Linked DNA regions of Homo sapiens: regions 1, 3 and 4 are each linked to region 2. Evidence: fine-mapped expression QTL. A gene starts in region 2. Each other region holds a variant in brackets. All regions are shown on one strand. Distances are between the middles of the regions.

The links.
Region 1: its variant is fine-mapped to the expression of GSTM5 in tibial nerve (GTEx, PIP above 0.99). The same link has a PIP of 0.9 or more in lung.
Region 3: its variant is fine-mapped to the expression of GSTM5 in whole blood (TOPMed, PIP above 0.99).
Region 4: its variant is fine-mapped to the expression of GSTM5 in subcutaneous fat (FUSION, PIP 0.93).

What each region holds. Positions count from the first base shown.
Region 1 is chr1:109,667,478-109,674,758 of GRCh38, forward strand. GSTM2 (glutathione S-transferase mu 2) reads left to right here and starts at 580. Exons shown (of 8, transcript NM_000848.4): 1 at 580-674; 2 at 948-1,023; 3 at 1,448-1,512; 4 at 1,813-1,894; 5 at 1,994-2,094; 6 at 3,810-3,905; 7 at 3,996-4,106; 8 at 7,270-7,281. The coding sequence starts at 639. It also overlaps a transcript of GSTM4 not described here. RefSeq lists a silencer at 662-831 and an enhancer at 2,347-2,446. The variant C/T (reference allele first, on the strand shown) is at 4,271.
Region 2 is chr1:109,707,236-109,714,921 of GRCh38, forward strand. GSTM5 (glutathione S-transferase mu 5) reads left to right here and starts at 5,016. Exons shown (of 8, transcript NM_000851.4): 1 at 5,016-5,113; 2 at 5,383-5,458; 3 at 5,884-5,948; 4 at 6,249-6,330; 5 at 6,426-6,526. The coding sequence starts at 5,078.
Region 3 is chr1:109,757,214-109,764,873 of GRCh38, forward strand. EPS8L3 (EPS8 signaling adaptor L3) reads right to left here and starts at 6,710. Exons shown (of 19, transcript NM_133181.4): 1 at 6,609-6,710; 2 at 4,506-4,560; 3 at 4,282-4,346; 4 at 2,465-2,623; 5 at 2,025-2,174; 6 at 1,849-1,904; 7 at 1,311-1,450; 8 at 1,103-1,218; 9 at 731-845; 10 at 589-650; 11 at 268-342. The coding sequence starts at 4,536. It overlaps LOC124904258 (a long non-coding RNA gene), which reads left to right and starts at 2,652. Exons shown (of 2, transcript XR_007066303.1): 1 at 2,652-2,737. RefSeq lists an enhancer at 3,353-4,082. The variant C/T (reference allele first, on the strand shown) is at 2,615.
Region 4 is chr1:109,631,308-109,639,246 of GRCh38, forward strand. AMPD2 (adenosine monophosphate deaminase 2) reads left to right here. Exons shown (of 19, transcript NM_001368809.2): 19 at 1-744. Among named protein-coding and RNA genes, the nearest start is that of AMPD2, 15 kb to the left of the region's middle. The variant A/G (reference allele first, on the strand shown) is at 3,919.

The sequences.
Region 1 (7,281 bases), 40 kb before region 2:
GCAAGCTCCCTAGGAGCACAGCACCACTTATGACAAAAACATCATTTTCTTTTCTCTGAGGCGGTATTCCTGACGTTTGGATTTAGGCTGATAAGTGACAGTGAGTTATAATCATCCTTGCCTGTGTTGTCCTTCCCACGTTAGGTCTGTCATGCCACGTATGTCCGCAGTTTATAACAATCTCTATCATACATTGAAAAGTTTTGAAAACTTATCCAGTGAATCCCTGAGCACCAAATGTTCTTTTGTGTTATTTTTCTTTATTAGGCTATTATTACTTTATTCAGAATCTCTCTGTTTTAGAGAGAGCCTTTCTTTCTTGCCTAACCTAGAGTGCAGCGGCGCGATCATAGCTCAGTTCAGTCTTGAACCCCTGGACTCAACCAGTTCTCCCCCGCCCTGGGCTTCTGGGCGTCCTGATCTCTCTCCTGAAACCCACGGGGCTGGGAGGTGGGAGGAGATCCTACTCCTAGCCCCATGAGCGCGCTCCAGGCCTCCAGATTGGCCCGTTTCGGGGGCAGGGCGGGCCGTGGGGCGGGGTCGCAGCAAGGCTTCCCCTCTACCCTCTCTGGGCCTCTCACAAACGCTGAGCCCCGCCCCGCTGAGGCCTGTCTGCAGAATCCACAGCAACCAGCACCATGCCCATGACACTGGGGTACTGGAACATCCGCGGGGTGAGCCAGGGTCCGCTGGGCGGTGGGACGGGGGTGCGTGGGGGCGGGGAAGTGTGGAGCAGCTGCAGGACGGGCTCTAGGGACGGTTCCTCTTCAGGGCTGTCCCTGACAGCGGGGTCTGTGCTTGCCGCTGTCTGTGCGTGTGGCTGGGCGTGCGGGGTGGGGGCGGGTGAGGCAGGAACGAGAGGAGGAGATGGGGCTCCCCTTGTGCAGAGTCGTCACAAAGTCAGGGACCCTCCATCTCTGACCCGAGCTGTGGGCCATCTCTCCCAGCTGGCCCATTCCATCCGCCTGCTCCTGGAATACACAGACTCAAGCTACGAGGAAAAGAAGTACACGATGGGGGACGGTAATGGCACCCTCGAGTCTGGGCCCTGCCCCCTCACACTAAGTTGGCACCAAGCAACCGATAGTGGCCACCTGTGGCTGACTCTGCAGGCCTCCCTTGCTGGAACTGCAGGCTGTCCCTTCCCTGAGCCCTGGTGAGGGAGCTCCTTGCAAGGCAGAATGCTGGGGCGGGATGCTGGGCCCCCGTCTGGGTAATTATGATGGGTGTCCCTCAGGGCTTGCCTAAACCCTGGAAGCCTTAGCTGTGTGGGGTCCAGAGCCCTCACTGGAATTCTTTTTCTCTGAATCCTGGGATGTGGGACTGAGTGGTCAGATTCTAGATCCACCTGTCTCAGGGGTCTTGCCACTGGCTCCTTGGGAGGGTCCCCAGGAAGGAGGGCTGGGCTTTGGGGAGGTTTGTTTTCACTTCATCTTCCCCACCACAGCTCCTGATTATGACAGAAGCCAGTGGCTGAATGAAAAATTCAAGCTGGGCCTGGACTTTCCCAATGTAGGTGCAGGGGAAGGGGCGGTTTTGGGGGAAAGTGCGACGTGTCTCTGACTGCATCTCCTCTCCCCAGCTTAGAGGTGTTAAGATCAGGAGTCTTCTGCCCAATTCCTCTCACTCTTGGCTGTCTACACAGCCCTTGCATGATGTTCTGTGTCCCAGCTCATTTATTAGTGTGACAGTATTTCTATCTCAGGCCTGCCATGAGCAGGCCCTGGTCTCCTCTTTGCCCTTGCATATGGGAAGGGGATGCTGGGGAGCCTGGTGGCCCAACTGAGCTTCCCCGGTTTCCCATCTATCCAGCTGCCCTACTTGATTGATGGGACTCACAAGATCACCCAGAGCAACGCCATCCTGCGGTACATTGCCCGCAAGCACAACCTGTGTGAGTAGATTTGGTTGCAAGATGCGGGGAGGGACCGTGGCCTCCTCCTCGGCTTGGCTGGGCTGTGAGGCTGAGAGTGAATCTGCTTTACGAGGGTAGGCGGGGAATCAGAAAAGGAGCAGATTCGCGAAGACATTTTGGAGAACCAGTTTATGGACAGCCGTATGCAGCTGGCCAAACTCTGCTATGACCCAGATTTTGTAAGTCCCCCCACCCCACTCCCAGTCTCCCCTTCCCTACTCCCAGTCTCCCCTTTCCCTGCAGAGTTTGTGTCCAAAATTGATTCCTTCTGGTGAGTTCTTGGTCTTGCTGACTCTAAGAATGAAGCCGCGGTCCTACACGGTGAGTGTTACAGTTCTTAAAGATGGTGTGTCCGGAGTTTGTTCCTTCAGATGTTCAGATGTGTCCGCAGTTTCTTCCTTCCGGTGGGTTTGTGGTCTTGCTGACTTCAGGGGTGAAGCCGCAGACCTTCGCAGTGAGTGCTACAGCTCTTAAAGGTGGCGCGTCTGGAGTTGTTTATTCCTCTTGGTGGGTTCATGGTCTGGCTGGCTTCAGGAGTGAAGCTGCAGACCTTCATAGTGAATGTTATAGCTCATAAAGGTAGTTCAAACCCAAAGAGTGAGCAACAGCAGGATTTATGGTGACGAGTGAAAGAAAATACACTTCCACAGCCTGGAAGACAACCTGAGCAGGTTGCTACTGCTGCTTGGGAAGGGCGGAGGTGGGGGGGGAAATCCCTTATTTGGCCCCACCCACATGCAGATTGGTCCATTTTACAGAGAGCTGATTGGTCCATTTTACAGAGTGCTGATTGGTCCGTTTTACAGAGTGCTGATTGGTCTGTTTTTACAGAGTGCTGATTGGTGCGTTTACAAACCTTTAGCTAGACACAGAGCGCTGATTTGTGCATTTACAATCCTTTGGCTAGGCAGAAAAGTTCTCCAAGTCCTCACCTGACCCAGAAGCCCAGCCAGCTTCACCTCTCATTTTGATCAGGAGCCAAGACTGTGGTCCTGCCAAATACACGGGTCCTGTTTTCTGTTTGAACTCTTTAGTGCTACTCATCCTTCAAGCTATTTCCTATACTGCCACCAGAGTGACCCTCAAACCCCAAAGTCGTGTCAAATAAAACCTCTAAATCAATTCCCCACCAATCTACTTATAGAATCCTGACTCCCCAGGGTATGAATTCACTCTCTAGACAGTAATGGTTACTTCCAGAATCCCTTCCATCTCTGACCCATGACCTGTGCTTTGGGCCATCTCTCCCAGTGGTTTATATCATCTGCCTGCTTTAGGAATACACAAACTATGAGGAAAACAAGTGCAAAACAAAGGAGTAATGGCACCTGAAATTTTGGTGTCTTCCGAGTGCTCTCTTGACATACACTGAGATCAGCGAATTTTCCTAACAGACAGCTTAGGGGCAGCCAGAGGCTCTTTTTCCCCCTCCTTTCTTCCACTTATCCTCTGAATATCTCCTCATCTTTCCAGAAACCACTCAATGTCCATTGTATTCTACTGCTGCCCAACTAGGAGGAAATTTCTACTTCTTTCTCTGAGCTCCTTTAGTTCTTTGCATCCTTGATTCTGCTCATATCTGGTCCAGAGCCTACCAGGTGCTCAGGTGCTCCTGGGGCTGACCCAGAGGTTGTTGGGAGGTCAGTGGGGACAGATTTAGGGACAGTGTCACATTCCGCTCTGCCATCCCATCACCTCAGAAAGACTCCAGCTACCCAGTTGGAGTCTAATAAATGCTGATGTATCCAGCTGAAGCCTGGACAGTGACCCAGTTCCAGCTGTGGGGAAGATGACTGCTTGCCCGCGGCCAGCTGGGGCCATGCACAAAACTGGGAGGCCGCATCTGTGCAGGGAGCTTGTGTCTGAGGGTGTTGACAGCTGTTTTCTGCCTCAGGAGAAACTGAAACCAGAATACCTGCAGGCACTCCCTGAAATGCTGAAGCTCTACTCACAGTTTCTGGGGAAGCAGCCATGGTTTCTTGGGGACAAGGTAATGGGGGCGTGTGATGGGGACACCACAGATTTGTCATACTTCCTATATTATGGAGGTTTCAGCCCACATATCCTTGGCCTTATCCAGATCACCTTTGTGGATTTCATCGCTTATGATGTCCTTGAGAGAAACCAAGTATTTGAGCCCAGCTGCCTGGATGCCTTCCCAAACCTGAAGGACTTCATCTCCCGATTTGAGGTGATGCCCCCAGCCTCCTTTCTCTTTATGTCTCTTATTCCTTTCCCTCCTTTGTGATGCTTTCCCAGTCCTGGAGCTACACAAAGAATAACTCACATTTTTGGCCATGTGCGGTGGCTCACGCCTGTAATCTCAGCGCTTTGGAGGCTGAGGGAGGCAGATCA[C/T]CTGTGGTTAGGAGTTTGATACCTGCCTGCCCAACATGGCAAAACCCCATCTTTACTAAAAAAAAATACAAAAATTAGCTGGGCGTGGTGGCGAGCACCTGTAATCCCAGCTACTTGGGAGGCTGAGGCAGGAGAATCACTTGAACCTGGGAGGTGGAAGTTGCAGTGAGCCAAGATCGTGCCACTGCATTCCAGCCTGTATGACAGAGTGTGACTCCATCTCAAGAAAAAAAAAAAAAAAAAAAAAAGGAGCCGGGCATGGTGGCTCACACTTGTAATCCCAGCATTTTGGGAGGCCGAGTTGGGTGGATCACCTGAGGTCGGGAGTTCGAGACCAGCCTGACCAACATGGTGAGACCCCTGTCTCTACTAAAAATACAAAATTAGCTGGGCGTGGTGGCACATGCCTATAATCCCAGCTACTAGGGAGGCTGAGGCAGGAGAATCTCTTGAACCTGGGAGGCGGAGGTTGCGGTGAGCCAAGATCGTGCCATTGCACCCCAGCCTGGGCAACAAGAGTGAAACTCCATCTCAAACAAAAAAAAGAAGAAAAGAATAACTTGCATTTATTGAGTGCTGGCTTCATGCCACGAACTGTACCCAGCACATTATACCTATTGTGTTGAATTTGAAATTTACAACATTCCTACAGGGTGGTAGAATTATCTCCCCCATTTTAGAGACAAAGAAACTGAGAATGAGAGGGTCAGTCCTTTGCTCAGGGTCCCAGAGCCAGTGGAGGCTGTGCTGGGCTCCCTGCGAGCCTCTGGATCTATGGTTGGCAGTCAGGGCTCTCCGTTTTGTGACAAAAGAAAAGCCTCAGGCCTTGTCCAGCCTGGGTTTCATAGCCCAGGACACTTTGGAAGAGGCAGAGCACTTCAGGACCACGGATGCAGCTGGCAATAGTAGGACTGACACACAGTAGCATTGATGTTCAATACTGAACCCACAGGCAGTATTCACAGCTACACCCAGAAACTTTGTATGATTGAACCCCCATGTGGGGAATCCTGAGAGCCAGGGCTGTGGCTGGAGCTGGATTAAGGTACATATGTGGGTGCCCCTGTTGAAGGAGCTTATGCTGAAATGCCCTGTGCTGGAGCACTTTCCTTCTCTACCTCTTTTTTTTTTTTTTTTTTTGAGACGGAGTCTTGCTCTGTCACCCAGGCCGGAGTGCAGTGGAGCAATCTCGGCTCACTGCAACCTCTGTCTCCTGGGTTCAAGTGATTCTCCTGCCTCAGCCTCTTGAGTAGCTGGGATTACAGGTGTGTACCACCACGTCCAGCTAATTTTTGTATTTTTAGTAGAGATGGGGTTTTGCTATGTTGGCCAGGCTGGTCTCAAACTCCTGACCTCAGGTGATCCACCCACCTCAGCCTCCCTAAGTGCTGGGATTACAAGCGTGAGCCACCGCGCCTGGCCTCTTCCTCTCTTTTTTTCCCTCCAATGTTCCAGGTGTTCCCCCTGTGAGATGAGTAGCACGCTGATTTTACTCCTGTTCACTGACCTTCTCCTCTGCATGAGGCAGGGTGTGAGGCACAGTGGGAGATGCATAGATGACAGCCCCATCCTGGAAATGAGTGCAGTGAGAGGCCTGCAGGCAGAGCAGCCTGTGAAGTGTGTGCTGAACTTGTTTGAGAGCAGCAAATCCTACATTACTACAGATTTGGGGATTTGAGGCATTTGTCCAACAGGCTTCTGAGCCTTGAATCTGTTTCCCTTTTCCACTCCCCATCAAGAGATCTGCTTGCTCAGCTAGTTCCCATCAGCTCTGGTTCTGCGGTTCTGGTCCAGGCTGAGTGGCCTTGGAGTTAGGTAAGAGGTGGTGGGAAGGGAGGGATGGAGGAGAGCTGAGAGCTATGGCCCGTTATGTGCCAGGGTCAAGCCTGTCACCCAGGCTGGAGTGCATTGGTGCGATCTTGGCTCACTGCAACCTCCGCTTCCTGGGTTCAAGCAATTCTCTGCCTCAGCCTACCAAGTAGCTGGGATTACAGGTGCCCGCCACCATGACCAGCTAATTTTTGTATTTTTAGTAGAGATGGGTTTTCACCATGTTGGCCAGGCTGGTCTCCAACTCTTGACCTCAGGTGATCCACTCGTCTCGGCCTTCCAAAGTGCTGGGATTACAGGTGTGAGCCGGATGTTTTTGAATACCTTATCTGGGCATTCAATCCTGGTAAGATTGTGCACAGCACATCTGAGTGTCATGTAGCCTGATCTGCAGCAGGGCTGGAGATGCCATGGGTTAGGGCACAGTGAGATTTTGCTAAGATACCAGATGGAGAACCTTGGACTTTCTGCTTTAAGGGGAATGATTAGAGCCTAGTCTCGCCTTTGATTTTCTTGTGCACTGCCACTCCCCATTCCACTTTCATCCAGGTTTTACTGAGACATTGGGTGAGTGTGTTCAGAGCCCCTTTGTTCTGCTGGAGGTCCCTTCTGTGTCTCTATACCCAGACAAGCCAAGAGCCTCCCTGTGGAAAAGGAGACTGTTTGTGCAGTCAAGGAGTGACAGGGCCTGGTGTGAGGGGTGGTGGGGCAGAAGAAGAAGAGAATTTGGCAGAAAGAGGCCAGAACTGGAGAGAGACAGAACCAGGCTACATTGAAGTTCTATTCCCCTTACTAGGTATTTAAATGTAAGGAAGTTGCTGAACTTCTGTTTCCCACATGACAAATGGTGATAATAGATTCAGCCTTGCAGAGTAGTCGAGTGGGTTTTCTAAGCTTACGTTGTAATTTCTCTTGGGTACAGAGCACCCAGCACCGTGTAGAATCTTCATAAGTGTTAGCTGTTACTGTGGTACAACATTACTTAAAGGAAGTTGGAAGAGTTAACTCCGCAGATCTGGGGACCCTAAGAAGCTGTGTGATGCCTCAGCACTTGAGCCCACATGGAAAGGCTGTGGCCAGGGCCCTGACCTGCTGTGTCTGCAGTGGGGTTGTGCCAGCCCTCATGGGCAGCTGACCTTGAGTTCTGGCCTTATTTTCCCCCCTCTCAGGGCTTGGAGAAG
Region 2 (7,686 bases):
TCTTCCTCCTTCAGCACTGGATCTCGCTTACAATAGGTTTTATTTAATAATTCTACTCCTTATACTTTCTGTCTCACCAGTTTCCCCTCACACTGATTTGCCTGCTACACAAAATTATTCTTATTGGGCTTATGTGCCTTTTCCTCCACTTATTCGACCTCTCACCTGGATGAATGCTCCTGCGGAAATCTACACTAACGATAGTGTGTAGATGCCTGGAGCTATAGATGACCATTGCCCTGCTCAACCAGGAGAAGAAGGCACTGCATTTAATGTTACTATGGGTTATAAATACCCTCCTCTGTGCCTCGGACATGCAACTCGTTGTATCCATCTAGAAACTCAAGTCTGGGCTGCTTATCTTCTGGAGAGATTAGCTACAGGAAAATGGGGACATTTGGTCTCCGGCCTCTCCCTTTGTCCTTTAAGACAAATGAAAAGGGGAGTAATAGGAGATACCCCATACTTTCAATATAAACCTGTAGGAAAACTATGTCCTAAAAATTTTGAGGGCCCATCTAAAACTTTAATTTGGGGAGATTGTGTTAACTCACATGCAGTAGTATTAAAAAATGACTCATATGCTTTAGTAATAGACTGGGCACCAAAGGGCTATTTAAAAAACACTTGCTCCTCTGGGGGAGGGGAATTCCTGGAGGCTACTTATTTTATTTCTTATTGGGAGGACGAGGATCATCATCCTACTTTGCATAGGTGGTTCGGCTCATTCTTTACCTTAAAATGGGAAGATAAGGACATTACCCTCCACCCCCAAGGCCTTGTATGATATTCCCCATTCTGAGCCCAGAACACCCAGAACTTTCGAAATTGGCTATTGTCATGTCTGGACTGCCAGTATCTGTGATTCTGAACCCCATGATAAATCCCCTTTGAACCTTTTTCCTCTTTTTGATGCCGATCCTCCTTTACGGGACTCCAATTGGCATTACGATAATTCTTATCGACCCAGGTATGCCCCTCTACTTCTTCAGCATCCCCAGGCACCTCGGTTTGCTTCTTTATGGTGGAGAACATCGGGCATTGCCACCGCCGCTCCTCTCCCTCAGTATCAACATAGATTCAAGCATTCTGCTTTGTTTACCTCCAACCTGACTATTCCTATACAGAGTTGTGTTAAGCTTCCTTACATGCTGTTAGTGGCAAATATCAAAATTTGGACAAACAATCAAACTGTCCAATGCATTGTCATTTATACACTTGTGTTGACTCCCGTTTTGACTCCAGGAAAAGTGTAATGTTGGTTGGAGCTCGAGAAGGAATCTGGATACTGTGTGCCGGACCAGCCAAAGAATCCTGTGTCAAAACCGAGAGAACGAATAAGCCTTCATCACCATGGCACATTTATATAAAAAGAAAGGGAGAGATGTTGCGGGAAGTCAGGGACCCCGAATGGAGGGACTGACTGGAGCCGCGGCAGAGGAACATAAATTGCAAATATTTCATTTTAATATGGACATTTATCAGTTCCCAAATTATTACTTTTTACATTTCTTACGCCTGTCTTACTTTAATCTCTTAATCCTGTTATCTTCATAAGCTGAGGATATATGTCACCTCAGGACCACTGTGATAATTGTGTTAACTGTACAAATTGATTGTAAAACATGTGTGTTTGCACAATATGAAATCAGTGCACCTTGAAGAAGAACAGAATAACAGTGATTTTTAGGCAACAAGAGAAGACAACCATAAGGTCTGACTGCGTGCAGGGTCAGGCAAAATAGAGCCATATTTTTCTTCTTGCAGGGAGCCTATAAATGGACATGGAAGTAGGGAAGATATTGCTAAATTCTTTTCCTAGCAAGGAATATTACTATTAATACTCTGGGAAAGGAATGCATTCCTGGGGGGAGGTCTATAAACGGCCGCTCTGGGAATGTCTGTCCTATGCAGTTGAGACAAGGACTGAAGTACACCCTGGTCTCCTGCAGTACCCTCAGGCTTACTAGGGTGGGGAAAAACCTGGCCCTGGCAAATCTGTGGTCAGACTGGTTCTCTGCTCTTGAACCCTGTGTTCTGTTGTTTAAGATGTTTATCAAGACAATACGTGCACTGCTGAACATAGACCCTTATCAGGAGTTCTACTTTTGCCCTTGTCCTGTTTCCTCAGAAGCATGTGATCTCTGTTCTGTTTTTTGCCCCTTAAAGCATGTGATCTTTGTACCTACCCCCCGTTCGTACACCCCCTCCCCTTTTGCAATCCTTAATAAAAGCTTGCTGGTTTTGAGGCTCGGGCCGGCATCACGGTCCTACTGATATGTGATGTCACCCCTGGCGGCCCAGCTGTAAAATTCCTCTCTTTGTACTCTTTCTCTTTATTTCTCAGCCAGCTGACACTTATGGAAAATAGAACCTATGTTGAAATACTGGGGGCAGTTTCCCCGATAGCCTTGCTGAGGAAATTAAATTTATGTTCAAGTGCTATTTCTTTATGGAACCAAGGAACAAGTATTTCAAACAATACTAATGTAACAGTACTGGTTCTATGTGTTTCAAAATTATTATTCTCATGAGTGTTAGCTTTCTTAAAAAATCGTTTTTATCAATTGGATCTAGACATCTTATCTTTCACAGCTCAAGACCCATTAACTCAAAATCATAAACTCTTAATGCATAATGAGAAATATAATGATTCCTAGGGCCAGGCACTTGTGTCTGTGCTGGTGCTATTGCCTCAATGCAGGAAAATCTATGTGAGAATTCACTGTGAGGCCAAAACTGCTTCCTAAACATGGATACCTGCCAGGTATCTGAGCTGGGAGTACTGCCCAGGTCTGGATGGGTGGGGAGTGTTTGCAACAAGGACTGTGCCTTGCCAGCCTCAGTGACACAGTGTCCAAGTGCCCCAACTTAGCAGCCACCTGCTGACCACCTGATTTCTGTGGCCTAATAGGGATGTGATGAAGTCTACCTGTTTACTCAACCCCAAACCACACATTATCCAGGTGGTTTGAAACTTTTTTGATATACTGGGTTCATCCTCTGGAGTCCTAACAATGTTTTAGCTAATTTACAAAAAAACAAAAACAAAAACAAAAAACAAAAAACTACTTTTTTTGCAGCACAACAGCCTGGTTTACATTGCAAAATGATTTCTCATTAAAGGTCTATCATCTATTTCCATATATCCATTATTATTTGTAATATCCTTTAAAAAAAGCAGTCAACCCCAGGCTAATCCATTGCACAACTCTTTTGAAAGTCTTCCTTCTACCTTGAAAGAAGAAAGTTGGCAGGTTGGACATTGTTCTTGCGGAGGTTGTACCATGGGTCACATATCACGGTGTGACTTCAAAGGCCACTGGAGCCACCGTCTCATACTGAAGAACACACATGGGTCAGGAGCCAGGTCCAGGTCCGGCATGGTGGATCTGGAGAGGGGAGAGTCCCTGCCTGTGATCCTGTGGGGAGCCCTCAGGCTCCTCTCTGGCCACCATCCTCTGACCTCCCTCCTCAGCAGGACAGGGTTCTGGCTTCTCTGAGGGACAGGTTCTGTGGCAGACCAGGTGTCACTAACACAGGCCTCCATAACAACTGTTTCAGTACTGACTGAGTGATGAAATTAAATATTAAAAGCTGAAAAAAGCCAGTACCTTTATACAGAGGCTGGATGTAACAAAAGCCCACCAAGAGTTTTGCTTAGGCCTTTCCTGGGCCTTAAAGCATGACAAAACAACGAAGGAATTCTTAACAGGACCTATTTAGAATTAAACAAGTTTTATTGTGAGTCTGAAGAAACTCCCCAGGCCTCCACAAACAAGTTTACTGGGCATCTGAAGGAACTCCCCAAACCTCCATGATTTAGCAGGAGACAAGATAAGGGCAATCATCCCCCGCACCTGGACCCATTTAGATTAAGTAAATAGACTGAGGCTCCAGAGTAAGGTCCTCAGGACCCAGACCTCAGTTACAGATTAAAGAAGTTAATCACTTATGTCTTTAGATGAATGCACACTTACTTGTAGACATATACCTTAGAAGGTATATATGCTCTGGAAAACTTTAATTTTGAGTTGGTCTGGTAGTAATTTCCAGGCCTTCTCCCTGTAACTGGTTGCAGAAATAAAACCTCTCTTCCTCCCCATTTGATCTGCATCTCGTTATTGGGCCTAGAGAAATAGCAGCCGGACCCTCAGTTTGGTCCGGGAAGTTCTTCCATCCTCCCTCGCCTGCTCTCTGTGGCCACTGCACTCACTGTTGCTGTTGCTGTTCCGGTCTCTGTGAGGTTCACCTAGTGGACTGGCTGGACATTTCTAGGGGGCACCTCAGATACCTCACCAACTTGCTGGATCTGATCCTTGGATTTCGATTCATAAATTGTGCCAAAATACGAAGTGGCTAATTTACATAGTACTTAGCCAGATGACCGAAGGACTCAGTATCCAAAGGCCCCTAACAGAAAACACAGACCACATTTCCTTTACTCTGGCCCTTTTCCTGGGGGTCCTTCCTATACCACTGACACTGTTCCTGTGTAGGCGGGGCTAGAGGGGAGACTAAGCCCTCGGAGTAGCTTTCGGATCAGAGGAAGTCCTGCTCTTACAGTGACAGGGGCTGAATTAAATTCCCAGGTTGGGACCACCACTTTTTAGTCTGACCCCTGCAGCCGGAGTCTCCCAGAGCCCTTGGGAACTCGGCAGCGGAGAGAAGGCTGAGGGATTCTGCGGGCAGGGAGGAGAAGGGAGAAGAGCTTTGCTCCGTTAGGATCTGGCTGGTGTCTCAAGCGCACAGCCAAGTCGCTGTGGACCTAGCAAGGGCTGGATGGACTCATGGAGCCTCAGGGCGGGTTGGGGAAGCTGGCGAGGCCGAGCCCCGCTTTGGGCTTCTGGGCGCCCTGACCTCGCTCCCGGAACCCTGGGGACTGGGAGGCGGGAGGGGGCTTATTGATTCCAGCCCCGGGCGCTCGCTCGGGGGCCTACAGAATGGCGTGTTTCGGGGTTGTGGCGGGCCGAGGGGCGGGGTCGCAGCAAGGCCCCGCCTGTCCCCTCCTGGGCCTCTCAAAGTCTGAGCCCCGCTCCGCTGATGCCTGTCTGCAGAATCCGCACCAACCAGCACCATGCCCATGACTCTGGGGTACTGGGACATCCGTGGGGTAAGCGAGGGTCCTCTGGTGGGTGGGACAGGGGGCGGAGGCGGGGATGTGTGGAGTAGCTGCAGGACTGGCTCTAGGGACCGTTCCTCTTCAGGGCTGCCCGCCTCAGAAGGGCCTGTGCATGACGCTGTGTGTGTGTTTGGGGGTGGGGGCGGGTAGAGGAGGCGACGGGTACGTGCAGTATAGACTAGGGGCTGGCCTGGTGCAGAGAAAGTCACCAAGTCAGGGACCCTCCATCTCTGACCCGAGCCGCGGGCCATCTCTCCCAGCTGGCCCACGCCATCCGCTTGCTCCTGGAATACACAGACTCAAGCTATGTGGAAAAGAAGTACACGCTGGGGGACGGTAATGGCACCCTCGTGTCCGGGCCCTGCCCACTCACGCTGAGTTGGCACCAAGCAACCCATGGTGGCCACCTGTGGCTGCCTCTGCAGGCCTCCCCTGCTGGAGCTGCAGGCTGTCCCTTCCCTGAGCTCCCGTGAGTGAGCCCTCTGGCCTTGCAAGGCAGAATGCTGGGGCGGGATGCTGGACACCCTGTCTAATTGGGTTGGGTGTCCCTCAGAGCTTCCCTAAACCCTGGAAGCCTTAGCCGTTGTGGGGTCCAGAGCCCTCAGTGGGATTCTTTCTCCCTGAACCCTGGGATGTGGGACTGAGTGGTCAGATTCTAGATCCACCTGTCTCAGGGATCTTGCCACTGGCTCCTTGGGAGGGTCCCCGGGAAGGAGGGCTGGGCTCTGGGGAGGTTTGTTTTCACTTCTTCCCCACCACAGCTCCTGACTATGACAGAAGCCAGTGGCTGAATGAAAAATTCAAGCTGGGCCTGGACTTTCCCAATGTAGGTGCAGGGGAAGGGGCGGTTTTGGGGGAAAGTGCGACGTGTCTCTGACTGCATCTCCTCTCCCCACCTTAGAGGTGTTAAGATCAGGAGTCTTCTGCCCAATTCCTCTCACTCTTGGCTGTCTACACAGCCCTTGCATGATGTTCTGTGTCCCAGCTCATTTATTAGTGTGACAGTATTTCTATCTCAGGCCTGCCATGAGCAGGCCCTGGTCTCCTCTCTGCCCTTGCATATGGGAAGGGGATGCTGGGGAGCCTGGTGGCCCAACTGAGCTTCCCCGGTTTCCCATCTATCCAGCTGCCCTACTTGATTGATGGGGCTCACAAGATCACCCAGAGCAATGCCATCCTGCGCTACATTGCCCGCAAGCACAACCTGTGTGAGTGTGGGTGGCTGCAATGTGCGGGGGGAAGGTGACCTCCTCCTTGGCTGGGCTGTGATGCTGAGATTGAGTCTGTGTTTTGTGGGTGGCAGGTGGGGAGACAGAAGAGGAGAAGATTCGTGTGGACATTTTGGAGAACCAGGTTATGGATAACCACATGGAGCTGGTCAGACTGTGCTATGACCCAGATTTTGTGAGTCCCACACCCCACTCCCAGTCACCCATTTCCCTGCCTTTTGGCCCAGACCAGGGAGGGACTTCCAAAGTCAGGTCTGTAGCAGACTCCGGCCAGCTGACTGGAGACGTCTATAACCTGGTTCTCCAAAATGTCCACACGAATCTTCTCCTCTTCTGAAGATTCTTGTGGACATTTTGGAGAACCAGACCACGGACAACTGGATGCAACTGGTCATGATCTGCTACCACCCAGAGTTTGTGAGTCTCCCCAGTGAGCTGCACCTGGCAGAGTTTGGATTTGGGGCCAGGACTCTTGCATTCCTGCACGCACTGGTCTTTTCTTAAGTCCTTGGTACCACTCATCCTCCAAGTGCTTTCCCATACTATCAGCAGTTATTCTCACGACTCCAATGTCATGTCAACAAAAGCAGAGGCAATTCCCACCAATCTTAGGACACGATCCAGGCATCCCACGGTGGAAATTCAATTCCTAGATGGTAAAATTTGTGTTCAGAATCTCCTTCATCTCCTCTGGCCTCTGGCCTCTGTCATGGGTCATTTCTGTCAGTTGATTTATATCACCTACCTGCTCCTAGAATATACAGACTCAAGTACAAGACCAAGGAATGTAATGGCACCCTCAAATTGCATCTTCTCCTCAAAGTTTTCCAAGTGCTGTCATTGACATGCACCGGGATCTGCGCATTTTCATAACAGACAGCTCAGAGGCAGCCAGAGGGCCTTTATTCCTCTCCCTCCTTCCTTTCAACTTGAACTTCTCATCTCCCTGGAAACTAGTCAATGTTCATTGTTTTCTTCTGTCACCCCATTAGAAGGAACTTTCTACTTCTTTCCCTGAGCTCCTTTAGTTCTTTGCATCCTTGATTCTGCCCCTGTCTGGATCCAGAGGCTGCCAGGTGCTCGGGCGCTCATGCGGCTGACCCAGAGGCTATTGGGAGGCCAGTGAGGACAGATTCAGGAAGAGCATCTCATTCTGATCACTTCAGATAGGGTCTGGCACCCAGTCAGAGTCTAATAAATGCTGATGTATCCAATTGAAGCCTGGGCACTGCCCCGGTTTTAGTTGTGGGGAAGATGGCTGCTTGCCTGTGGCCAGCCTGGGCCATCTACAGCCCTGGGGAGGCCACGTCTGTGCAGGGAGCTTTTGTCTGAGGG
Region 3 (7,660 bases), 50 kb after region 2:
CAGTGAGGGTGGGAAAGGCCCAGAGTCCCTGGCTTCCCACTTTTGCAATGGTAGGATGTTACCTCCTGCAAGGGGCCCCATCTGCCTTGGGCCTGCTGCTCCTTCCTGTCTCCCTTAGAGCCTTGGCGTCCTTGGCTCTGACCCCAGCTCATCTGGTTCCACCCTGGCCCCTGCTCCCCCATCCCCCTCCACCAGCTCCTTTCCTCTCTCTACTCCTTCTTGACTTCAGCCTGTCCGTCTTCACCACCCTGTCGTCCCTTGACTCACGAAGTTCAGGGACTTGAAGAGGATGTGTACGAGCTCAGGGGCACTTGTCTCCTTCAGCCAGGTGGCCAGCCTTCCCTGGGGACACAGAGCAATGCCTGTCACCACCCTTCACCCCACCCCATCTTCACCAGGTCACCATAATTGTTTTATGCCTTGGCTGGAAGGCTGGCACTTCCCAAAAGTCCCAAGAGGGGAGGGGAGGTTCTAGGGGGAGTAGATGAAGAAGAAAAAGGCTTGGGATGGTTGAGTCCAGACAGCAGAGGATTACTGGGGAGGAAGGGGAAGAGGAGAGGCCTGGTGAACTTGTGGGGAGCCACCTACCAGGAGGTTGAAGCTGTGCTTGATCTTCTGGAAGCAGTCAATGTACTGTGCCTGGGTGAGACCTGGGAGAAGGGGCCAAGACGGTGGGCCAGAGATCACCCTGAGACACCCCTACTCCTCTTCCCTGGCCCTCAGTACTCACCTCCCTGGTCCTTGTTTTTTTTCCCAAATTTCTTCTTCCTGCTGGTCTTTGCCTGGGCCTTCTCCAGCTTTCCCATGAACAGCTCAATGTCCCTTAGGACATGGTTCAGCACTTCCTGGGCCCCAAACAACCCATGGCCTTGAACGGGCAGTTGGGCCCACCCTGGAACTCCCCACACTGCCCCCCGCACCCCTCCCCACCACAAGCCCCAGCCTCAGGCCCAGCCTGGAGTATAAACAAGCCTCTCTGGCCTCCTGGCCCAGGCCCTGGCCATCCTGGGACCCTGGCCTCCTAGAAAAAGAGGGAGGGTTGGTGTCCTTCCTTTTCCCAGGCCCAGAAAGCCTCAGCAAACTCAAGACCATCCGCAGTTACCTCGTCCCTCTCTGGGTCCTCGGGGGAAGAGGACCGCCTTGGAGGAGGCAGAGTAAAGGCACTTGGTTCTCGGGCACTGGTGTGGCGTGGCAGGGGCCTTGGGGATGGTGGGAGGCCTGCAGTGTAAGGGGACCATGGACCTAGATCTTAGATCTTTGACTTTTCATCGAAACCCTCTCCTTCACCTGCCCCCATGCCCCAAACTTACTGTGCTCTAGGGTCCTCTGGTGGGGCTGTTCTGGAGGGATCCCCGGCTCCAGATAGCGTGCCTGCTCCATAGGGAGCGGCCTTTCCATAGCAGGCCCCCTCCATCTGTCCTGGCCTGGCTGAAGGCCTCCAAGTCGAGGTCTGCTGAGGACATGGTAGGGGCCACATCTTTGACAAGGTTCTTTGGAGAGAGGCCCTCCCCACAATTCTGCTCCAGGACCCAGGGGCACCACCACCTCTCTCCAGGAGTCCCACCCCCTGCTCCCTGGTCTCCTTCTGGACCCACCCCTGACTCCACCCTGCCTCATCTGCCTACCCTCTGGGCCCTCTTGGGTCCCATCTCAGTCTCTGAGGACAGTCTCTAGTGCCCTCTGGGCCCAGCCCCTTGCCTATGCCCACCTCTGTCCTGGCTCCTCCTCAGTCCAGGCCCAGGTTGGTTGGGCCACAACCTCCTGGGTGCCCCAAGATATGGGGTCAGGGTCTGGCCCCCGAGGCTGAGCTGGGAGGCCCCATAGGTGGGCTGGGCAGAGGCTGCCTACCTTTGCTCCAGCTCTTCCTCCAGAGCCTTCTGCAGGCTGGTCTTCAGTCGCTCTGCCTGGGAAGCAGCAGTCAGGCAGGCTAAGTGTGTGTGTGTGTGTGTGTGTGTGTGTGTGTGTGTGTGGTGGGGTGATGGTCGATGAACCCCACCCCTGACCAATCACCCCCGACCACTCACCCCCACTTCCTGGCACTGGAAGAGCAGAGTGCTAGTGCCTGGCAGGCCCGGCTCCTGCACGGTGATGGACAGGATGGAGTTGTAGGAACATGTGTTGAGCGCCACATTCATGGCCTGGATGCTGTCTAGGCGGTAAGAGTCCAGCTCCTCCTGGGCCAGGTGGAGAGGTCAACTGTGAGGCCACCAGAGCTAGGTGTGGCTTCTGGGAGCTCCTGACCAGCTCATCCTAGCCCTTTGGTGGCCTAGGGCTGAGGTGTCATCTACCTGACTCTTGTGCCTCTGTCCCCAGCCTCTGTCCCCTGTCTCTTCCTAGGCTTGGGTGTGTGTTGTATGTGGGGAGAGTGGCTGCCCTTTGGGGCATGGAGGGTGGAGTTCAAGAGCTAGTGCTTGCTTCCCCACAGCCCAGGCTGGCTATCACTGGGTTTGCTGGGAAGGCTGACCTTGGTCTCAATGTCCAGCAGCTGCAGCCAGCCGTCCCTGACCTGCAGGATCAAGTCTTGGCTCCACACCCGGCCCTGTGCATCCATCTCGAACAGCTTCTGCAAGGCATCCTCGGGCCCCTGGACTCTCTGACTCCCCTGCTTGCATGT[C/T]ATCAAGTGCTGCAGGGAGAGGGGGAGTCCTAGGACTGGGAGAAAGCTCAGAGAGGTGGACCACAGGCGTGCTGGGTAGAGAAAAGCAGAAGAGGAAGAAGACGTGTCCTCGGCCCCCTTGAGGTAGGAGGTTCCAGGCTTCAGATAAAGCAACTTTCCAGGGCCAATGTGAGGGACGGTGTCGAAGCACTGGGGCCAGGGATAGGGCCTCCAAGTCTGAGTCTGAGGGGCTGCAGGAGGGGTTTGAGGACTCTGGAGGAAGGACAGGCATGGCCTTTACTAGTCCAGGCCAGGTGAGGCAGCTGGGTGGTGGAGGATGTGGGCTCCAGCCACCCAACAAATAACTCCTCTGGAGGTGATACAGGACCCTCAGATTCTGTCCCTGGCTTCCTTTGTTCCTTTTGGGAACTCAGTCCCAGCCCAGTCTTCCTCCTCACTCACCCAGCATTCCTGTCTCCTTCTCCCTGGTTCATGCCTGGAGATATCCATCGTGATCTCAGTCTCCGCTCAAGTCCTTGCCTACTGCTAGGCTGACCATCCAGGAGTTTTTTGCTGTTATCCACTCTCCTTTAGGAGCCCCCTCCCTTCTCCCAGCCAAACATTACCTTCACAAGGCCCCTTCCACCCAGGCTTCTTGTGGTAGGGAGATGCAGCCTGCCTCCTGCCCTTTGACCCCACCCCCCTGCCCAGGGCCCAGCTCTTCTCCCTGTGTTCGCACTGCCAGCATATTCAGGGGACTCTGGCATCATGAGCAAACTCCATCCTCCTCTTGCTCTGCCTGCTGGGCCTAAAAGAAGCCTCTTCCCAGCCTCCACCCTACAGAGAAGCTGAGTCCTCCTGGCCTCTCCTCGGCTGGCTAGGGGAGCTCTGCCTCTGCTGCCCTGTGGGACCTGCTGCCCTGTGGGACCTGCAGACCATCGCCCCAGCTCCCTCCCTGCTTGTTCTCCATTGGAGCCACTAACAAGTGGTGGCCAGGACAGGATGGCTTCTACCCCAGAGCTCCAGCCTGACCCTCTGCCTGCTCTCCCCACCACGCCCTTGTAGCCTGTGCTTCGCCTTCACCTTGGTGTCGACAGCCCTTCAGGCACCTAAATCTTGCAGTGCCTGCATCATCCTCCCTGGTAGAGCCAGAGACTCCATTCTAGCCTTGGAGCAGCCTCGGAGCTGCTCACAGTCACCCTGGAGGCTTGGGCCCAGGTGCCTCCCCTCTCCAACAGTGGCCCTCTCAATCCCCCACAGGGCCCAAAGATCCCAAAGATCCCACACACTCCTGCCTCCAGCCATGCAAGGTCTTGGGCAATGGAGCAGTGCCCTGGGGACTCGGGCAGCAGGGGGTTGGGAGACAGGGGAGGGTAGGTGGGTGGGTGGTTGTAGGTGCTTCTTATCCCATCCTGCTGCTACTTCTTCCTGTCTGGGGACAGGACACTCACCCGCTCAACCTCCAGCCAGGCCTGCTCTGTTCAATCTGACCACCCCTCCCCGTCCCTGACACTGAGCAGATGCTCTGGCAGGCTTGTTGGATCTGAGTCCATGCGACATGGTTGGGACAGGCTGTTGGCTTCTGGGGCAGGGACTTGTGTGAAGTGTCCATGTTCTGGCAGGGCGGTGGGCACATGGGAACACTTGGGTTTAGTTGGACACTGCCCGGGGGCTGCAGAGGTACTCACCTCCACCCTGTGCTGCAGGAGGGTGGGCTCTGAGGTGAGGTTCTGGGAGTACTCCTTCCGGTGCACTACAAGGGCACAGAGCAAGGGGCGGGAGGTGGGCAGAAGAACGAGGTGAGACTCAGGCAACTGCTGGGGGCAGTTGGTGTGAGGAAGGGGGAGTGGAGGATGGGACATTCTGGGGGCTCAGTGGGAGGGCACGGGAGAGGGGCCTGCCAGGAGCTTACAGTAAATGGCTCTGCTGCTGGGCCTTGACATGTTGACGCTGCTGAGGACGGCTCCCTAGAACCCAAAGTGAACCAGAGGCAGCCATCAGAGCTGGGGAAAGGTGTACCAGGCACAGCAGGGCAGGACAGTTGCTATTGCTCTGACTGGGGGCCTCTGGGACCAGACCCAAAGCCCCTGGCTCCAGGGGCCCTTTCCGGAGCCATCTGCAGCCAGCGTCCTCCACTGAGGAGCCCTCCATCCTGGCTGGGCCTGGAGGCCCCGGGCTGAGGGAAGGGAGGGTCAGGGAGGCCACAGCATGGCTGGGCCTCAGGGAAGGCTCCAGGCCTCCCATGGTTTGGCTGATAAAGCTCATGCCAAGGAGCCCAGGAAACCTGGATGGACAGGGACCTGCGTTCAGATCCTATCTTGGGCCTGGGTATGAAAGATGCTGGATGAGCAGAGGGTTCTGTAGCCGACCCCGCCAGAGGAGGCCCTCTTGTTCGACCCTGTTTCAGTTCTGCAAACTGAGAGGACGCTGATGCTGGCTCTTCAGCTGTAGACCCTCTGGGAAGACTGCATGCATGTGTGTGTGTACTTATGGTGGCACTGCAGGACTCGCCAGTGAGCTGACCTCCCCCAAGTGTCTCCCTAGGCCTCCTGGCTCTTTGCTTTTTGTACTCTGTATCCTCTGCCCAGGTCCCCTCCTGACCCCAACCCTTTAAATTCTAGCTCAAAGATCACCCTCTTGGTGAAGCCCTCCTGGACCATCCAACCCCACCCTGCCCAGGGTACCCTCCTAATGCTGCACTGGACCTTGTACATTTATCTCCAGCAACAATAGTCACAATAGCCACCACGGTGCTGTGAGCCTGGTGCTGAGCCCCTTACCAACATCCTATCAGTTTCTCCTCACTGCCGTCCACTTGTACTTACTTGGCGCCACGTGCCTAGCACTGTTCTAACGGCGTTACCTTCAGTCACTCTAATCCTCAAAACAACCTCACAAGGCAGGTACTGGTATTGTCCCCATTTACCATATGAGGACTCTGAGGCTCAAAGACGGTAACAGGCCTGAGGTCACAAATGAACGTTTAATAGAGAGCAACCCAGATCTGTCCGATTGCAAGCTTCGTGTTTTAATGGTTTATAAACATGCCTCTGCCGCTGGGCTGTGCGCAGTCACAGAGGGAGTCTAGAGAACATACATGTTGAAATGGAGTGGAATTAAATGTGGTGTGTGTGTCCCGGGTGGGGGTGGTGTTAGTCTGTGCGGGTCAAGGGTATGTGTTATCCAAATGAGGTTTGTGGGTATCCACATGTCTACATGGTACACCTCAGTTGTGCAGAAATACTGGACTACCCCGGGTAACATGTGAGAGAGCAACCCATACCCTTGTTTATTAGGACTGTTGTGAAAATGACGTAGGATCTGATAAGATGACTCAGTGTGGAAGGAAATAAACTGCCAGTGAACAATTAAGGGAATGTGGAAGGGACGGCTGGATCTCTGGTTTCCTTGTTTGGGAGGACCCCTTTTCTCTCCAGGGGTAAGGCGGGGCTAGAAGCCTGTTCCCCTTCCCCAGCCTCCCCCAACCCCCATTGTAACACTTCCTGCTTCTCCATGCTCTCCATGCAGAAGAGGAAGTGAGGTCTGCCCCTGGTCAGCCCCACTCCCCACTCCCTCAACACCAGGGTGGGCCCTGTGGGGCCCTCTAGGTAGGTAGGTCAAGGTGGGGAAACAGCTGCAGCCAAAGATTCCCTACCCCAGGGAGGGAAGAGGGAGCTGGCTTGGCCTGCCTTGCCCCTTAGGGGTAGGGGAGCTGTGACAGCCCATTTCCCCCCTTTAAGCCCTAGATGTAGGGGTTTGGAGCAGGGAAGGCCATCACCTCATAGACCCTGGGGCAAGCATCCCAGAGGCCCTTCCGGAGCCTGGACCTCGCTCTGCTTTCCAGCCCACCAGCCAGCTGCTGAGTCCCAAGCCCCTCCTTGGGCTTGATCCCCTGGGCTGCAGCTGGGAACAGGCTGGAGACCTGGCCTGGGAAGCCACTGAGTTGCCCCCACCTGCCCTGAGATCCCCTGTGACTGGGCTGGGCCCCGATCTTCCCTGGGGGCCAGGCCCTTACCTGGGTGCCAGTGAAGGCCGGGTGCCTGGTCCCCCCAGGAGGCTGGTCTTGGAGCAGGTGGTCCGGTGCTGGTGGTGGAAGGACAGCAGCTTCTCTGCTAGTGGCCACAGGCAGAGCCTGCCTTTGATGAGGTTACAGAGGCAGCCACGCCTGTGCTCTTTGGACTCTGGTGGGTGGGGAGGCTTCCTGGTCACTAACCGCTCAACATCAACCTGGACCTGCGGCAGTGTCTGTGCTGACTGGCGTCCCCAGCTTAGCTAGAGGCCCCTGCTTCCCTGTTTCCCCCACTGCTAGCCTTGGGGTGTGGCCCCCTCTTCCCTCTGCCTTTTAGGTGCCTACTCTGGGGAACAGGTCAGCATCAGGCACGGGGCTGGGACCAGAAGAAGAGAGCACACATGGCCCAGAGTCTGGGTTCTGTGGTGAGGGCACAGGTCGGCTGGAGGTGGACTCCAGGCTTGGGGGAAGCTGTGGGCTGGCGTGTGTGCCATGCCTGTGCGTGGGTGGCACCCATAGGTGTGTGATCCTGTGTACCTGGGTGGTGCCTGTGAGCAGGACATGGATCTTGTCACAGAAGATGGGGACTGAGGCCCCTGGGGCATTACATGGAGCGCTGAGATTCCCTCTGGCAGGGCCCTCATTCTGTCCCTACTGTTGTCCCTTCCAGCAGGAGCCCCCTTACCAGCCCTTTCTCGCTCTTCCACTCTCTTTCCTTCTGTACCCCATCTTGTGCCCAGACCCCTGGTGGACGCCTGGCCAGCTTCAGCAAAGATGGAAAACGGAGGCCTGCATCTATCTCTAGTCATAAACCTACCCACTTCCTGCACTCCATGGTATCGAAAAATCTTTCTTGGCACTCAGAGTGGGCCAGGCTCCCCTGCCCTCTGGGAACTCACAGTCTAACCAACAAGGCCAGGTATAAACAGAAACCAGGGAGCAGGGCAGGAGGGGAGGCGGGGGCGGGGGAGTGCCAGTGAGCCTCGGACCCTCGTGGGCAGAATGCAGGGTCCCGGTGCTGGGCCCTGTGATGGAGTGTCCTGTGGAGTCTGAGGGCT
Region 4 (7,939 bases), 76 kb before region 2:
AAGCAAAGCCTGGGAATCTGCTCATTGTTGTTTGGGCTCAGGTATTGAGCCTGATGGCCCAGGTATTGAGGGCCTCCCCTGCTGGTGGCCCTGTCCTGGGATCCTCAGAAGCCTGACTGTCCTATGGGCTTCTCCAGTGTCCACAGGGGCTTGGGATGGTTGTGGGGGGCTGGCCCCTCTAGCCTTTCCGGTCCTTCCTGGGCAAATCTAAGCCTTGGCCAGGGCCGAAGTTTAGGCCCCTGTCTTGTTCATGTAGCCGAGGGGCAGGCGGGGGACCTCTACACCTCTGCTGTGGGCACGGGGCTGCTGAGGGTCTGTGGAACTCCAGCAGCTCTGCACTGGGTAGAGCTGGGCCTAGAGCTCAGTCACAGGCCTGGGCTTCCTGGCCTGAGTGGGTAGACGCAGGCGGCAGAGGTGCTGGACCACATCTCCGCCAAGTCACTGCCCAGCAGCCTTCTCCGTCCTGTCCCCAGCCCACGTGCTCCTTGGGTGTCAGCTTCCTGTGCCTCTGTGGGAGAGGGCAGCTGCCTTGTGTTATGTCTGGGGCCACAGTTGCTGCAAAGTCCTGGATCTGCCACTCAACCCCGGGAGTGGTGTTCCCAGTGTGGCTCCCAGAGCTTTGACCAGATTGTGATCCCAGCTGGCCCCTATGTTGTGTTCTGGACTGAGGCCTTTGCTGTGAACTGCAGTGTTTCATACGAACCATCTTTCCTAGTGCATGAGAAATAAAGATTATTTAAGTAATGAGGCAGGTGGGGTTTCTGTTGGGAGAGGGAACGCCGTGGTGGGAGGTGGCTGTGGATGGAGGCACCGTGCATTCTGAGGGGAGGGACTAGGCTTGGGTGATGTGTATGTTGTGCATGTGGAAACTGACAAAAGAAGCTGTGGGAGAGAGGAGATGCCCATCCAACCCTCATCCAGCCTGTTCCCTGTGAGGGGAACACCTAGCCCCGGGTCTGTGACACATCCCTGTCACACCAGCTTGGGGGCTGGTGTCTGTTTCCCACCTTGTACTTCCTCCCCTCTTCCAGCCTCTGAGGGGATGGCCTGGTAGATGGGAAATATGCACCTACAGACAAACCTGAGACCAGGGTCTTCTGGGGGGGTCTTGTTTAGATGGCCCTCTCCAGGCCATACTCTCAGAGATTCTGATTCAATAGGCAGAAGGTGTGGCACAGACATCTGCAAACTCTCGGGCAGATTCTATTGCAAGAGGTTGGAACAAGCCTGTGCATTCCGATTCCAGCCCCCCGCCCCCGCCCCAATCCCATCTCAGCCTCTGTCCCATGTTTAATACACAATTTCTGGAGCACCTCCCTGGCACAGAGGTTGCTGAAGTCTGTTCCCCAGGTAAAGAAGGAAAGTGGAATGTGCCCTGGGCTGTGCAGGGTCCTGGGTGGGCAGAGAGAAGCCTGTCGCTGCCCCTGCTGCTGGCTGGGGAGGCCTGTCCTCCCCTGGCTGGCTGCCTCAGAAGCAATTAGCCCTGGAACAGCATGAGCCTGTTTAATTGAGGGCCTGCCCAGAGCCAGAGCAGCTGGAGCAGGAGGGGGAGGCTGGGAGGCTGCTGGCTTCCTCCTCCTTTCTTGTCAGCTGCTCTCCCCCACCCCAGCCTCTTTCAGCAAGCAGGTCTGCACCTGGCCCTGGGTCTCCCAGTGGGTGCCCCGGGAAGAAGCTCTCCTCATCCCTCTCCACTTCCCATTGGCCAAGCCCTCTCCTGGTCAAGACCCAAGGCCCTTCAGTTCAGAAGACACCCCTTGCCAATTCATCCTGGCCACTTACATGTCACAGAATTGAACGTTGGAGCCCGATGAGGGTGGGAGGTGGTGAGTCCAGGGCTCCTTCACCCATGCTGGGCCTCGGCTGCCCAAGGATCCCCCTTAGAAGGGTGAGGGGAACTCACTTTTCAAGTAGGTGAATAATTTAATAACACAAGTGAGCTGTGTCTTGTCTTTGTTTTAACAAGGAAGCAGGATTAAAAGATTTTTCTAGAAGGTCTTTTGGAGGCAAGAACTGCCTGTCCTGTCTGCCAGCACTTAGGACTCCATATTTACTTGTTGAATTTGTCATTTAATAGAATCCTTCAGTTCACTTTCTTGTCTCCTGTTTTTCTTAGTGTGTGTTGAGGCTTAGCTCTAAGAATATTACTAATTTAAAGTTCCTTAGCAGCCTCTTCACGGTTTATTTTTGAAACGAGGTCTTGCTCTATTGTCCAGGCTGCAGTGACCTCCTGGGCTCAAGTGATCCTCCCACCCCAGCCTCATGAGTAGCTGGGACTACAGGCACGTGCCACCTGTAGACGGGGTTTCACCATGCTGTGCAGGCTGATCCTGAACTCCTGGGTTCAAAGTGCTGGGATTACAGGCGTGAGCCACCGCACCCAACCCACAATTTATTTTTTAAACAACTTGCCTCTGGTTTCTTAGTTTCTCAGAAATTTCTCTTTCAAATATTTATCAAGAGAAAATAATCTTAAAAGGCCTTAATACTTCTTCCTATTTGAAAAGAAAATCATTTTCATTAAAAAAAATTTGGAAAATATAGAAAAATAGGAAGAAATAAAAGCCCACTCATAATCTACCAGTTTCACCAAATATTTGCTGCATGCCTGAGATATATGTAGATATTTTAATGCATATCTGTGCATATTTCTGTATTCTTTTCAGTTCTTTTTAAAATGCTATTTTTAAGTTGAGATCACAAGAATGATTTAGGCTTTTTAAAATTTTTTATTATTATTATTATTTTTGAGATGGAGTCTCACTCTGTCGCCCAGGCTGGAGTGCAGTGGTGCAATCTTGGCTCACTGTAACTTTTGCCTCCTGGGTTCAAGTGATTCTTCTGCCTCAGCTTCCCAAGTAGCTGGAATTACAGTTGCGTGACACCACACCTGGCTAATTTTTTGTATTTTTAGTAGAGATGGGGTTTCACCATGTTGGTCAGGCTGGTCTCGAACTCCTGACCTCAGGTGATCCACGTCAGCCTCCCAAAGTGCTGGGATTACAGGTGTGAGCCACCGTGCCTGACCCCGGCCTATTTTAAAAAGTATTTTAACATACGTCTTTCCACATGTCATCAAAATACTCTGCAAATATGAATGTGAACTACTGTGCACCACCCCCGGTGAGCCTCCCATGGTTTATGATTACAGCTCTCCTCTGTTAAGAATGACTGTGTCCTAATGTGACCAACAGTGTGCACTCTGGGTTTGACTTCTGTTTCCACCACTTTCAGGCTGTGTGACCTTAGGCAAGTTACTTCCCCTCGCTGTGCCTCCAGGTCCTCACCCATTTCATGGGGATAATAATAGCACTTTTCTCACGGGTTGATTTTGAATTCATTCAGCCACTGGATATAAAGCACCAAGCAAGAACTCAGTAAATCTTAGCTATTATTATCTTTGCCTAAATCTCTCCAGATTATTCCCTTAGTCTAGATGCCCTGAGTGAAATCACCAGGTCCAAGGTAGAATTTTTTTTACTGTTCTTGATAGAAATGAATCAAAGTATGTGAGCAGAAATAAAAAGTCATTTCCTTGCCCTCGACCTTGCCTGCACCTTCCATGCCAGCCCGCCACCTCCTCTCCTCTTTTGGAGCCCCACCCCCTGCCCTTCCTCTCGACCTGCTGTGTGTGCCTGCGTGTGTGAAGGTGCCCGCATCTTCTTCCTGGTCAGGGGCCAGATCTCACATGGAATGGGGGGGTGAGGGGGAAGGAGGGTGGGTGGCAGAGGGAGTAAATAAAATAGGCAACCCAACCTGTCTCCTTCCAAGGTTTGGGACCTGTCCTGAGTGAAGTCGACCCTGGGGGACTGTCCCTCATCTGTCCCTAAAGCTCTCAGACTGGGAAGTATGAGGGCTGTGTGCCAGGCCACATCTCACATGCCCTGCACGGGGTCCCCTCTCCGTGTCCACTCCTGGGGG[A/G]GTGGAGGGGAGCAAGTGGGGAGCTATCTGGGCCCCCAGGCTGCGGTAGAGGATGGGTAAGGGTGTTTGGTTAGGGTGACAATAATCCTGATTTCTAAACCCTACATCAGAACATTTACCCTATCAAAGTATTGCCTCACTTATGAATGTATTCATATGAAATTCCAATAAAGGCTTAAGCCTTAACTCAGGTTTAATCCAATGTTTGAGAAATCACTATATTTTCAAAATGAGAGTGAAACTGCCCAAATTAGGATGCCCTGGGCAACCTGGGGTGGGTGGTTTCCGCAGCTGGGCCTGAAGCAGGCAGCCTGCAAGTCTAGAAATGGGGGCGATCTAAGTGCCTTGCTTTTGTGCGCATACCTGTCTTCTCCCGGCAGACCCTCAATGTCACCCCCACCCCCTGGCAACATGGGAGAGCTGAAAGAAAACCTCTGAGGGCTGCAAAATATGGAAAAAAAAAAAAGTTGAAATTGACAAATGTTTAATGAAATGCCTTCAGAAAGTAGCATGTCAACTTCAATATTTGTTAAGTCACATGCCATTATATTTGAAAACAATTTGTAAGTTGGATTTTTGACAAGAGTTCCAGAATATGCAATATGATTAAAGAGAAAGCATAGCCAATAGTAAATTAAATGAGTTACTCATAGTCAAGTAATTTCAAAAGCAAATTTATAAAAACCCCTTTAAAGCAAAGCAGTTATATTTAATGAGGGGGTGTGGGTGCATTTTAAATGCAAGTGAGTGTGGGGCCTCCAAGAATCAGATGCAGGGTCTATAAAGGACTTACTTAAAATGGCTCAGCCCCGCAGTCCCACTCTGGGCCAGGGGGGTTGGCTCAGATTTTGGTCTTGCCGTCACCTTCAACTCTCCTGCCTCCCTAAATAGTCTGGGCAGATTTGGAGCAGCTACTGCTGCCACTGGCATCTTCTCTGAATCTGTGCAACAGATATGCACAGCTGGAATTTCTGTCTCCCCTTTGCAGATGAGAGACTGACCTGGGTTTAAACCTGAGTGTTCTGTTTATTAGCTGGGCAAGTCAGCCCTCCTCCCTGACTTCCCAGGCCTGGAGGAGATATGCAAAGGGGAGTGGCTACCAATCCATTCCCACCAGGGTCCCAAGCTACTGCTGGGGTATGCTGGTGTGTCTACTACGCATTTGCCATGGTGGGGTAAAATACCTATGAGCACCTGGCATTGGGCTGAACTCTTTGTAAGTGTGAATGTACTTCCAGCTCCTAGAACTCTGCATGATATCTATCACCATATTCCCTCGCGTCAACAGGGAGAATGAGGTTCGGGAGGTTATGTAACTTATCCAGGATGACTCAGCTAATGAGTGCCAGAGCTGGGATTTGACCCCAGAACTGTCAGGCTGCAAAGTCTTTGTTCCTCCTACTCTATCATGGTCCCTGGGGTACGTGTCTGGTTGAGGGGGTCCCTCTAGGGGTGGGGTGCTCAGGGAAGGGACAGGGTCAGGCTCTGATGAGCAGAAGGATCAGTGCGGGTGAGTCTAGAGGCAGAAGGGTCATGGAGGAGGCTCCTGCCACATCCCGGGTGTGATTGACAAGGACCTGGCTGGTGGCAGTGTGGGTGGAGAGGAGCTTTTGTGGGGAGGCTGCTAAGACCAGTAGTTAAGACAGAGGTGGCAGAGGTGGCCACAGGATTGTGATTGGCTGGCACAGCCTGATATGAGATCGAGAATGTGAATGCTCTGAGGCGGCTATTAGCCTGACCCCTCCCGGTTACCTTATACCCATCCCAGTCCATACACTGCCAGAGAGGTACTGGGTTTGTGATCCCCGGGCTCTATCCCACGGCACAGCTGTCACTTATTAGCCATAAGATCCTGAAAATTTCTAGGAACTCTGAGCTTTAGTTCTCTGATCTATCAAATGAGGATATCGGGGTCCACGTGTATTGGTTTGCTATGGAGATTAAATGCTGTTTATAAGGCAGAGTTCAACGACAGGGGACTTGAACAACTATGGAGCTAGGTCAGAAACTCCACTGCGGGGACAGAGAAGGGTGGGCTAATTCCTTTTTGGAGAAAATAGCAATAATACCATGCTTGCTTTGTGCTTTATAATTTTCCACATTTGGTTTTTGCAACAGCCTTTTGAGTTGGTCAAGAGTGTGATTATTCCTCCCAGCAGCCTCAAATCCTTTTGGAACCAGGTGTGAGCTAAACAAAAGTTATAAAATGTTACAAGTCCATAATGGATAATGGTACTGAAAGTCAGAGAGTCCCATACTTTGCCTGGTCACAGGGATAGGAGGTGGAGAGTGGAGTGAGGACCTGGTGCTGGACTCCCAGCCCAGTGCTCTTATTTTGAGCTCCCTTTGGGACCTGCTGGAGATTTGAGTCAGAGCCTGGCCAGGGGGCTAATTGGGGGTGGGAGGATGGCTCCAGGTGACCGTGAAGCTGAGGTGGGGATGGCGAGGGTGGAACAGGGTGTGAGGCCTGGGCCTTGATGGGGTCACTAAGACTGGTTTTTTATTTATTTATTTATTTTTGAGATAGAGTTTTACTCTTGTTGCCCAGGCTGGAGGGCAATGGCGCGATCTCTGCTCACCGCAACCTCTGCCTCCCGGGTTCAAGCGATTCTCCTGCCTCAGCCTCCCAAGTAGCTGGGATTACAGGCATGCGCCACCACGCTCAGTTAATTTTGTATTTTTAGTAGACATGGGTTTCTCCCTGTTGGTCAGGCTGGTCTCGAACTCCCAACCTCAGGTGATCTGCCTGCCTCAGCCTCCCAAAGTGCTGAGATTACAGGCGTGAGCCACCGTGCCTGGCCAAGACTTTCAAAGGCAAGTGCCCATGTGTTTGTTTATTTATTTATTTATTTATTTATGTTTTTATTTTTTGAGACGGAGTCTCGCTCTTGTCGCCCAGGCTGGAGTGCGGTGGCATGATCTCGGCTCACTGCAACCTCTGCCTCCTGGGTTCAAGCGATTCTCCTGCTTCAGCCTCCCAAAGTAGCTGGGATTACAGGTGCCCACCACCACGCTTGGCTAATTTTTGTATTTTTAGTAGAGATGGGGTTTCACCATGTTGGCCAGGCTGGTCTCGAACTCCTGACCTCAGGTGATTCGCCCGCCTTGGCCTCCCAAAGTGCTGGGATTACAGGCATGAGCCACTGCGCCTGGCCTCATGTGTGTCTGTTTAACTCCGCTGAGCTCCCTCCTCTCACTTTTCCTACCACCTTGGGCCTGCGCACCCTCTGGGAGAGCCCCTGCTGGCTCTGAATCCCAGTGCACCTCCTGGGCAGCTGTGGAGGCTTGGCGCCCCACCCTCATCTCAGCCTCTTTCGCCCCTGCTCCTGCTCTTCTACTCCTGGCCCCATCAGCTAACTCCCATTTATCTCATTTCTTTCCCTGAATAACTGTTCTTTTTAAACCCTCACAGCAGCACTGTGTAGTATGTATTAGCGTTATCCGTATTTCACAGATGGTTATCCTAATGCACAAAGAAATTAAGTAATCAGCTCTGGTCACTCAGCGGTCATCAGGTAGAGCCAGGACTCAGCCCCAGGCCCATCTGACTCCAGATTCCAAGTGGAGCCATTATGGCGTATCTTCTCCAGTGGACTGGCAACCTCCAGAATCCTGCATGACCAGGCTGTCTCAGAGCATCTGAATCTCACATCAGCTGAGACACAGCGACATCCAGCCAGGATACGGCTGAGATAAGCGGCCTTCGGGTTTTGTCACAGGGTAGCAGGGGAACCTGGGACAATACCCAGCGGCCCACCAACTGCTCCCTTGTTGGGGAATATTCCTTGCCTCGTAGCGTGGGTGAGCCTGCTCCTAGCTGGTCCTCCTGCCTTCCTGATGGCTTCCTCGCTGCCTCCCTCTCTCTACCCACCTCTTCCTTCTCCCCAGCAGGCCAGGAGGCCAATACCTGCTGCAGGTGCCTCGCCTTTCCTTGCAGCTCTTTCCTCAGAGCCTGGAGTCAGGATGGAAGTTGGTTGGGAGAGAAGCAGGTGCTGGGGCAAGGTGGAAGGAGGAGGGGCGA